Regions from separate parts of the Homo sapiens genome. Here region 2 is linked to region 1. Evidence: fine-mapped expression QTL. A gene starts in region 1. The other region holds a variant in brackets. All regions are shown on one strand. Distances are from middle to middle.

What was found.
Region 2: its variant is fine-mapped to the expression of MADCAM1 in adrenal gland (GTEx, PIP above 0.99).

What each region holds. Positions count from the first base shown.
Region 1 is chr19:494,394-498,761 of GRCh38, reverse strand. It overlaps MADCAM1 (mucosal vascular addressin cell adhesion molecule 1), which reads right to left and starts at 2,276. Exons shown (of 5, transcript NM_130760.3): 1 at 2,211-2,276; 2 at 645-929; 3 at 1-266. The coding sequence starts at 2,262. RefSeq lists a silencer at 2,909-2,958.
Region 2 is chr19:1,477,415-1,481,782 of GRCh38, reverse strand. It overlaps C19orf25 (chromosome 19 open reading frame 25), which reads left to right and starts at 2,568. Exons shown (of 3, transcript NM_152482.3): 1 at 2,568-2,620; 2 at 2,878-3,009. The coding sequence starts at 2,880. It overlaps PCSK4 (proprotein convertase subtilisin/kexin type 4), which reads left to right. Exons shown (of 15, transcript NM_017573.5): 15 at 1-355. The coding sequence ends at 24. RefSeq lists enhancers at 2,402-2,521, 2,883-3,383 and a silencer at 2,742-2,791. The variant G/A (reference allele first, on the strand shown) is at 1,691.

The sequences.
Region 1 (4,368 bases):
GGCGGGCGGGACAGGGGTCCCCAGGGGCGGCAGCCGCCAGCGCTCTGTCACCCTGAACAGCACGTCCTCGTCCCCCTGGGGCTCCTCCTCCTCCTCCTGCACCTCCGGGCCCAGGGCTTGCGCCCCCTCCAGTTCCTGGCCCCCGACGAGCAGGGAGAAGGAGAGCGCGTTGGGGTCCACGGGCGTGACTTTGTGGGCCGTACAGGCCACCTCCGGGTCACCAGGCACCAGGGCTGCTGGGGAGACGGTCAGCTGGTCCGGGAAGGCTGTGATGGAGGGTCGGGGGTGAGGGCTGAGCCCAGAGTCAGGGCTGGACGTGATGGAGGGGCCGGAGCCCGGAGGGGCTTGGAGCTGGGGCCAAGGATGCGTGGGGGCTGCTGATGAACAGGCAGTAGGGACGGCCTGTGCGCAGGCCCCGTGGCCCCACCCTGGGAGGCTGGAATAGACAGGAGGATGGGCCAGGGCCGGCCCTGGGAGAGTTGGGGTGAGTTGGAGGGAAGCGAAGGCCGGGGACCTGGCTTCGGGGAGCTGTGCATGGAGCTGGGACCCTGCCTGCAATCTGGGAGGCTTCCAGGAAGAGGTGGCATAGGGAAGGAGCCGGGAGTCCAAGGGTCAGAGAGGCAGGGCGCGGGGGGACGCCTCACCGTACACAAGGAGCTGCACGGTGTGCTGGAAGGTGCGGCCCCCGCAGGAGCCCACGCACACGCGGGTCCCGGCCGCCGACAGCGAGGCGTTGCGCACGGTGAGGACGCTGCGGCCCGTGTCCGACTGCACCGCGCCCAGGCTGGTGTCCAGGCCCCGCCACTGCACCGAGGCCCCGCGGTCCGCGCAGGCCAGGCGGCAGGTGAGCTGGCGCGAGGCGCCCAAGGCCACGGCCACCACCGGCTCCGGGGGCTCCACCTGCAGGGGCTTCACCTGGAGGGACTGGCCTGCGGCGACCGCGGCTCTCGCTCAGCCCCGCGGAGTCCCGGACCCCGCCCCGCCACCGGCCCTGCGTCCCGCTCCACCCCCGGACCCCGCCCCGCCTCTGCCCGGTTCCCGGACCCTCCGCTGCACCCCCGGACCCCTGCCCCGCCGCTACCCGGACTCCCAGGCTCGGTCCCTGAACCCCGCCCCGACCGCCGCCTCTGCCCCAGTCCCCCGAACCCCAGCTGCCTGGAGCCAGTTTCGCTGCGGGTCAGGGGGCCGCGCGGAGCCCCGCAACTTCCCCTCTCAGCCCCTGCCTCCTCCGAGCCCCCTCCTCTGGCAGGATCACCAATCACCCCCTATCTCGGAGCCCCTTAACTCTGAGCACCCCTCGTCTCTCCCGCGCCCCCTCCGAGCCCCTCCTCTCTCCTGCGCCCCCTCTTAACTCCCTCCTCTCTCCCGCGTCCCCTCCCCGCTCACCGCGCCCCTTCCTCTCCCCCGGGCCCCCTCCCCTCTCCCGGGCCCCCCTTCTCTTCCGAACCCCCTCCCCTCTCCCGAGCCCCCTCCCCTCTCCCGAGCCCCCCTTCTCTTCCAAACCCCCTCCCCTCTCCCGCGCCCCCTCCTCTCTCCTGAGTCCTCTTCACTTTACTGCGCCCCCTGCTCTCTCCTGCGCCCCCTCCCCTCCGCGCCCCTCCTCTCTCCTGCGCCCCTTCTCTCTCCTGAGCCCCTTCTCTCTCCTGAGCCCCCTCCACTCTCCTGCGCCCCCTCCTCTCCCCTGCGCCCCTCCTCTCTCCTGCGTCCCTCCTCTCTCCTGAGCCCCCCCACTCTACTGAGCCCCCTCCCCTCTCCTGAGCCCCCTCCTAACTCCCTCCTCTCTCCCGCGTCCCCTCCCCGCTCACCGCGCCCCTTCCTCTCCCCCGAGCCCCCTCCCCTCTCCCGCGCCCCCTCCTCTCTCCCGCGCCCCCTCCACTCTCCTGCGCCCCCTCCTCTCTCCTGCGCCCCCTCCCCTCCGCGCCCCCTCCTCTCTCCCGCGCCCCCTCCTCTCTCCTGCGCCCCTCCTCTCTCCTGAGCCCCCTCCACTCTCCTGAGCCCCCTCCTCTCTCCTGCGCCCCTCCTCTCTCCTGCGTCCCTCCTCTCTCCTGAGCCCCCCCACTCTACTGAGCCCCCTCCCCTCTCCTGGGCCCCCTCCTCTCTCCCGGGCCCTCTCCTCTCTCCTGAGCCCCCTCCCCTCTCCTGAGCCCCCTCCTCTCTCCTGAGCCCCCTCCTAACTCACTCCTCTCTCCCGCGCCCCCTCCCCTTCTCACCGAGGAGGAGCCCCAGAAGCCCCGCCAGCAGGAGGGCCAGTCCGAAATCCATGCTCAGTCCCCTCTGTCCCGAGGCCGCGGGGAAGCCGCTTAAATAGAGGCGCCCACTCCTTCCCGCCGCCCGGCGACCCCGCTCCAGCTGCTCCCCGGGGGCTTCCCAAGGGGCTTTCCTGGCCTGACCCCCGACCCTGGAGGCGGCAGAGAGGCAGGGGCTGGGGGCCAAAGATGGGGCGGGGTCCCGGGGCCACTCAGGACGGGCAGGCAGGAAGGTCTGGGTCTGTTCCAAGCCTCATATTCAGGCACGGGAAGATCGCAGACGGAGGCCGGAGGGTCGAGGTCAAGTGCATGGAAGTGGGACAGAGGCTGGGCAGCGCCGCCCCCACCCCGACGGCGGGTCCCCTGCACTTTCTTTTCTTTTTTTTCTGAGTTTCGCTCTTGTTGCCCAGGCTGGAGTGCAATGGTGCGATCTCAGCTCACCGCAACCTCTGTCTCCCGGGCTCAAGCGATTCTCCTGCCTCAGCCACTCCAGTAGCTGGGATTACAGGCATGCGTCACCACGCCTGGCTAATTTTGTATCTTTAGTAGAGACAGGGTTTCTCCATGTTGGGCAGGCTGGCCTCGAACTCCCGACCTCAGGTGATCCGCCCACCTCGGCCTCCCAAAGTGCTGAGATCACAGGCGTGAGCCACCGCGCCCGGCCCGCCTGCACTTTCCCGGGCGGCCGCACAGGGGCGGTGGAGAGCAGCCCTCCCCCGTTCCGGAGCTGCAGGCCGGGTCTTGTTGGCTGGGGTCCCCTGGGGGTCAGGTGAAGGTCGCTGGGGATGGAGGCCCCCTGGACTGAAGTCTCCTGGCCGTGGTGGAGCTGTGAGACCCTCCAGGACGTGGGACAAGTCACCCCATCTCTGAGCCTGGCTTCCTTCCATCACACGGGCAGAGGCCGCCCACCTAGCAGGCCTGGCTGGAGCCTGGGAGCCCGAGTAGGGGCTGCCTCTGTTCCTTGGTCTACACTGAGACCTGGATCTCGGTCCACAAGAGGGATCTGGAAGGGATGCTGGCTGGACTCCCACTCACAGCTGCCATCAGCGAGTCCTGGGAACCTCATCTTCCAAACGCACTGGAATCCACCCACCTGTTCCTCCAAGCCCCGCACACTGGTTCTGTCTCCGCTGGTGGCTTGTTTACCCCCCTGCATCACCGGGACCCTCCCAGGGCCTCTGGGACTCTGCCCGGGCTGCTCCTCACCTTACCCAGGTTCTGCCCACCCCCTCACCCCCTCGCCCCCCACCCTCCTCCGCTGTGGTTCCCAGGGTGCTCTGCTCCTAGCTCAATGAGGGCCTGTGGTGGCAGTCGTGATGGCTGGCTCCCCTCCACCCAGGGGCCGGTCCTGTGACCCTGGACCCCATGCACCGCAGGCACGCGGGAATAAAATGATGGAGCATTCCTGCTGACCTCAGGGTCTGTCTGTGCCTCAGTTTCCCTGGCCATGGAATAAAAAGCAGCAGCCAGTCCATGGGGTTCCAAGCATTGCCAATCGGCTTACCTGTCAGAGGAGGGAAACTGAGGCCCAGGGGCAGGGCTGGGACCAGAGGAGGGAAACTGAGGCCCAGGGGCGGGGCTGGGACCAGAGGAGGAAAACTGAGGCCCAGAGGAGGGGCTGGGATCAGAGGAGGGAAACTGAGGCCCAGGGGCGGGGCTGGGACCAGAGGAGGGAAACTGAGGCCCAGAGGAGGGGCTGGGATCAGAGGAGGGAAACTGAGGCCCAGGGGTGGGGCTGGGACCAGAGGAGGGAAACTGAGATCCAGGGCAGGGCCTGGGTGCAAAGGAGGGAAACTGAGGCCTAGGGGAGGGGCTGGGTGCAGAGGAGGCAAAATGAGGCTCGGGGGAGGGGCTGGGTGCTGAGGAGGGAAACTGAGGCCTAGAGGAGGGGCTGGGTGCAAAGGAGAGAAACTGAGGCCTAGAGGAGGGAAACTGAGGCCCGGGGTGGGGAAACAGTCCCCTCAGAGGTGAGGGCCCAGGTGTGTGAGCTCACAGCCCTGTCTCCCTGGGTCCCATCCCCCTCCTGCCCAGGCTGGTGCCGGGAAAGGCCTCACCGGAAAGCAGACTCCGAGGAGGGGCCCTCCCCAGGCCGGAGGTGCAGGCCCTTCCCGGGAAGCTGGGC
Region 2 (4,368 bases), 980 kb before region 1:
GTCTGGCTGCCAGCTGGAACCTGAAGTTGTCAGCTCAGAAAGCGACCTTGCCCCCGCCTGGGTCCCTGACAGGCACTGCTGCCATGCTGCCTCCCCAGGCTGGCCCCAGAGGAGCGAGCACCAGCACCCGACGCCTGGCCTGCCAGGGATGGGCCCCGTGGAACCCCGAAGCCTGGCGGGAGAGAGAGAGAGAGAAGTCTCCTCTGCATTTTGGGTTTGGGCGGGAGTGGGCTGGGGGGAGAGGCTGGAGCACCCCAAAAGCCAGGGGAAAGTGGAGGGAGAGAAACGTGACACTGTCCGCCTCGGGCACCGCGTCCAACCTCAGAGTTTGCAAATAAAGGTTGCTTAGAAGGTGCTCAGTCTGTGGCCTCCTCTGGAGCAGGGTGGGCCCGAGGCCCCAGGGCTCAGGTGGTTTCTGCTTGGGGTCCCCGGACATCAGTCCATGGAGAATGCAGCCGGCCACGGAGAAAGAGTCCGCCCAGGCCCAGGGACCCCAGGCAGTGGGAACAGCAGGGAATGGCCGGGGGTCAGCAGTAATGTCCAGCCCCAGAACATGGCTCACCATGGCCCAGAATCCTCTCCTGCGGTGATTCCTTTGTTTTTTTTCTTGTTTGTTTTGAGACAGGGTCTCCCTACGTTGACTAGGCTAGAGTACAGTGGTGCGATTGTAGCTCACTGCAGCCTTGAACCCTGGCCTCAAGCAATCTTCCCTCCTTGGCCTCCCAAAGTGCTGGGATTACAGGCGTGAGCCACTGTGCCTGGCCCTTTCCTCCCTCCCTCCCTTCCTTCCTTTTCTTTACTTCCTTCCTTCTTTCCTTCCTTTCTTCCTTCTCTTTCCTTCCTTTTTTAGTAGAGATGGGTTTCACCATGTTGGCCAGGATGGTCTCGATCTCCTGACCTCGTGATTCGCCCACCTCGGCCTCCCAAAGTGCTGGGATTACAGGCTTGAGCCACCGCACCTGGCCCCTTCCTTCCTTTCCTTTTCTTTCTTTCTTTCCTTCTTTCTCTTTCCTTTTTCTTTCTTCCTCTTTCTTTTCTTTTTCTTTCTCTCTCGCCTTCCTTTCTTCCGTTCTTCCTTCTCTTTCCTTCCTTTCCTTTCTTTTCTCCCTTTTCTTCTTTACTTTCTTCTCTTTATTTCCTTTTTCTTTTTTTTCTTTCTCTCTCTCCTTCCTTCCTTTTTCTTCTCCTTCCTTCTTTCCTTTCTTTCTCTTTCTTTCCTTTTCCCTCTCTCTGTCCCTTCCTTCCTTCCTTCTCTCTCAACAATATTTTTTTTTTTGAGACAGAGTCTTGCTCTGTCGCCCAGGCTGGAGTGCAGTGGCACGATCTCGGCTCACTGCAAGCTCTGCCTCTCGGGTTCATGCCATTCTCCTGCCCCAGCCTCCTGAGTAGCTGGGACTACAGGCAACCGCCACCATGCCTGGTTAATTTTGTTTTTCTTTTTGTATTTTTAGTAGAGACAGGGTTTCACCATGTTAGCCAGGATGGTCTTGATCTCCTGACCTCGTGATCCACCCACCTCGGCCTCCCAAAGCGCTGGGATTACAGGCGTGAGCCAACACACCCAGCCTAATTTTTGTATTTTTAGTAGAGACGGGGTCTCACCATGTTGGCCAGGCTGGTCTCAAACTGGCCTCAAGTGATCTGCCCGCCTCGGCCTCCCAAAGTGCTGGGATTACAGGCATGAGCCACC[G/A]CGCCCAGGCTGAATTTACAGTTTAAACAGGCGAATTTGGCCGGGCGCGGTGGCTCACGCCCGTAATCCCAGCACTTTGGGAGGCTGAGGCGGGCGGATTGCCTGAGCTCAGGAGTTTGACACCAGCCTGGGCAACACAGTGAAGCCCCATCTCTACTAAAATACAAAAAAAAATTTTGACGGACGTGGTGGCGGGCGCCTGTAGTCCCAGCTACTCGGGAGGCTGAGGCAGGAGAATTGCTTGAACTCGGGAGGCGGAGGTTGCAGTGAGCTGAGATCACGCCACTGCACTCCGGCCTGGGCGACACAGTGAGACTCTGTCTCTAAAAAAACAAAACAAAACGAAATAAACAGGAGAACTTTATGGTATGTAAACTGCATCTCAATAAAGCCCCTGAGAGAGGAAAAGGGCCCTCTGCTCTTTCTGCCTTCCCAGGCATCAGCGGAGAGGAAAAGGTGACCTCCAGCACCGTCCCCGAGGTGGGAGGACCCGCCTTGGCCGGAAGTGGAGGCGCCGCGACCGCCCCGCCCCCGCTGTGTTCCGGCCGCCGAGTGCTCATGCACCACCAGGCTCCCTTAGGTGGACAGCAATTTTGTGCTCCCGTCAGCCACATGGGTGGCGTGTCCCCTAGTGCCGTGTTCCCCTTTTCAGAAAGACGAGCCTCGGATGCTTTTCTACCCAGCCAGTGGAGCCTGGACTCGAACTCGCTCTCATCGTAGCGCGTCCAGGTTCGGGTTCGCCTGAGAGGCTGAGATCCGAGTCTCAAGGGCACTATCCCTTTAAGACGGGGCGGAGCCCCGCGATGAGCGGCGGGCCGGCGGGAGAGGAGGCCGGAAGTGTGTGTCACGTGTTCGGGGACGGGGCGGTGCTCCGACCGGAATCGGAAGTGGCTGCGTCGTCGACGCTGGGCTTTCGGGTCCCGCGCCCAGGTGGGAAGAGGCCGGCGACTGGGGTGACCGCGGGGAAACTGAGGCAGAGGTTGAGCCAGACCCTGAAGCCTTGGCCACCGTGTTTTTGGGCGGAGGGAGGGTCAGGGCCTGGGGCGAGCTCAGAGGGGCGGGACAGGGCGGGCTTCCCCGGGAGCGGGACCGCGACGGGTGCGTACGAGTTCGCTGGGCGGGAGGAGCAGCCCGGGCAAGGGCGGAGAGGTGGACGCCCCGGTCAGCGCCCCCTTCCCCGCCTTCAGAGATGGGCTCCAAGGCAAAGAAGCGCGTGCTGCTGCCCACCCGCCCAGCGCCCCCCACGGTGGAGCAGATCCTGGAGGATGTGCGGGGTGCGCCGGCAGAGGATCCAGTGTTCACCATCCTGGCCCCGGAAGGTAGGGGGAGCCCGGTCCCGGGGAAAAGCGGACCTGAGACCCCGGCAGCAAGGGGACGGGAGAGAAGCACACCCCTAACTCCTGACCCCACGCCCTGGGAACCCCCGCAACATGGGCACGGTCCGTATCCTCTCCGAGTCTCCCTCTACTCCTCCGTAGAGTGGGACCGATTTTCAGAGGGTTCTTCTGACAGGGGTGGAGGCCGGGCGCTGTGGTTCAGGCCTGTAAGCCCAGCACTTTCGGAGGATGAGGCGGGAGGATCGCTTGAGCCCAGGAGTTCGAGACCAGCCTGGCCAACATGGTGAAACCCCGTCTCTGCTAAAAATGAAAAAACAAAACAAAAACAAAAACAAAAACAAAACAGAGTTAGCTGGGCATAGTGGCAGGCGCCTGTAATCTCAGCTACTCGGGAGGCTGAGGCAGGAGAATCGCTTGAACCCGGGATGCAGAGTTTGCAGTGAGCCGAGATCGCACCACTGCACTCCAGCCCAGGTGACAGTGCGAGACTGTCTCAAAAAAAAAAAAAAATTACTGGGTGTGGTGGTGGACACTTGTAGCCCCAGCTTCTTGGAGGCTAAAGTGGGAGGATACAGCCTAGGCAACACAGCCAGACTGTGTCTCAAAAATAAATAAGTGGCCGGTGCGGTGGCTCACGCCTATAATCCCAGCACTTTGGGAGGCCGAGGTGGGTGGATCACTTGAGGTCAGAGGTTGGACACCAGCCTGGCCAACATGGTGGAACCTTGTCTCTACTAAAAATACAAAAATTAGCCGGGTGTGGTGGCATGGGCCTGTAATCCCAGCCACTCAGGAGACTGAGGCAGGAGAATCACTTGAACCTGGGAGTCGGAGGTTGCAGTGAGCTGAGATCACGCAACTGCACTCCAGCCTGGACCACAGTGAGACTCTGTTTCAATAATTATAATAATAATTAATAAATAGAAATAAATAAAGTAAAACAGAGGTGGTAAGCTAGGGCCCCCCAAACCCTGCCCCTGGCTGTTTTTTTAAGGTCTGGGAGCTATGAATGGACTTCACATTTTTAAATGGGGGTGGGTGAAAAAGAACATTTCTGACACCTGAAAGAGGTATGAAATTCAGATTTCAGTGTTGGTAAGTAAAGGTTTACGGCACACAGCCAAATGATTCACATACGGTTAGTGGCTGCTCTCACACCAGAAGGGCAGAGTTGAGTAGTGGGAGCAGAGACTCCAGCCTTTGGCAGGAAAGCTTGTCCACTCCTGATTTACGAGGTGGAAGCTAGTCAGAGACCAAAGGATTCAGCAGTGCAGTTGGGTGAATTTTGTGTTCTGGATGAGGCTCATTCATTCATTCAACAATCCTTTTCTTGAGCACTTC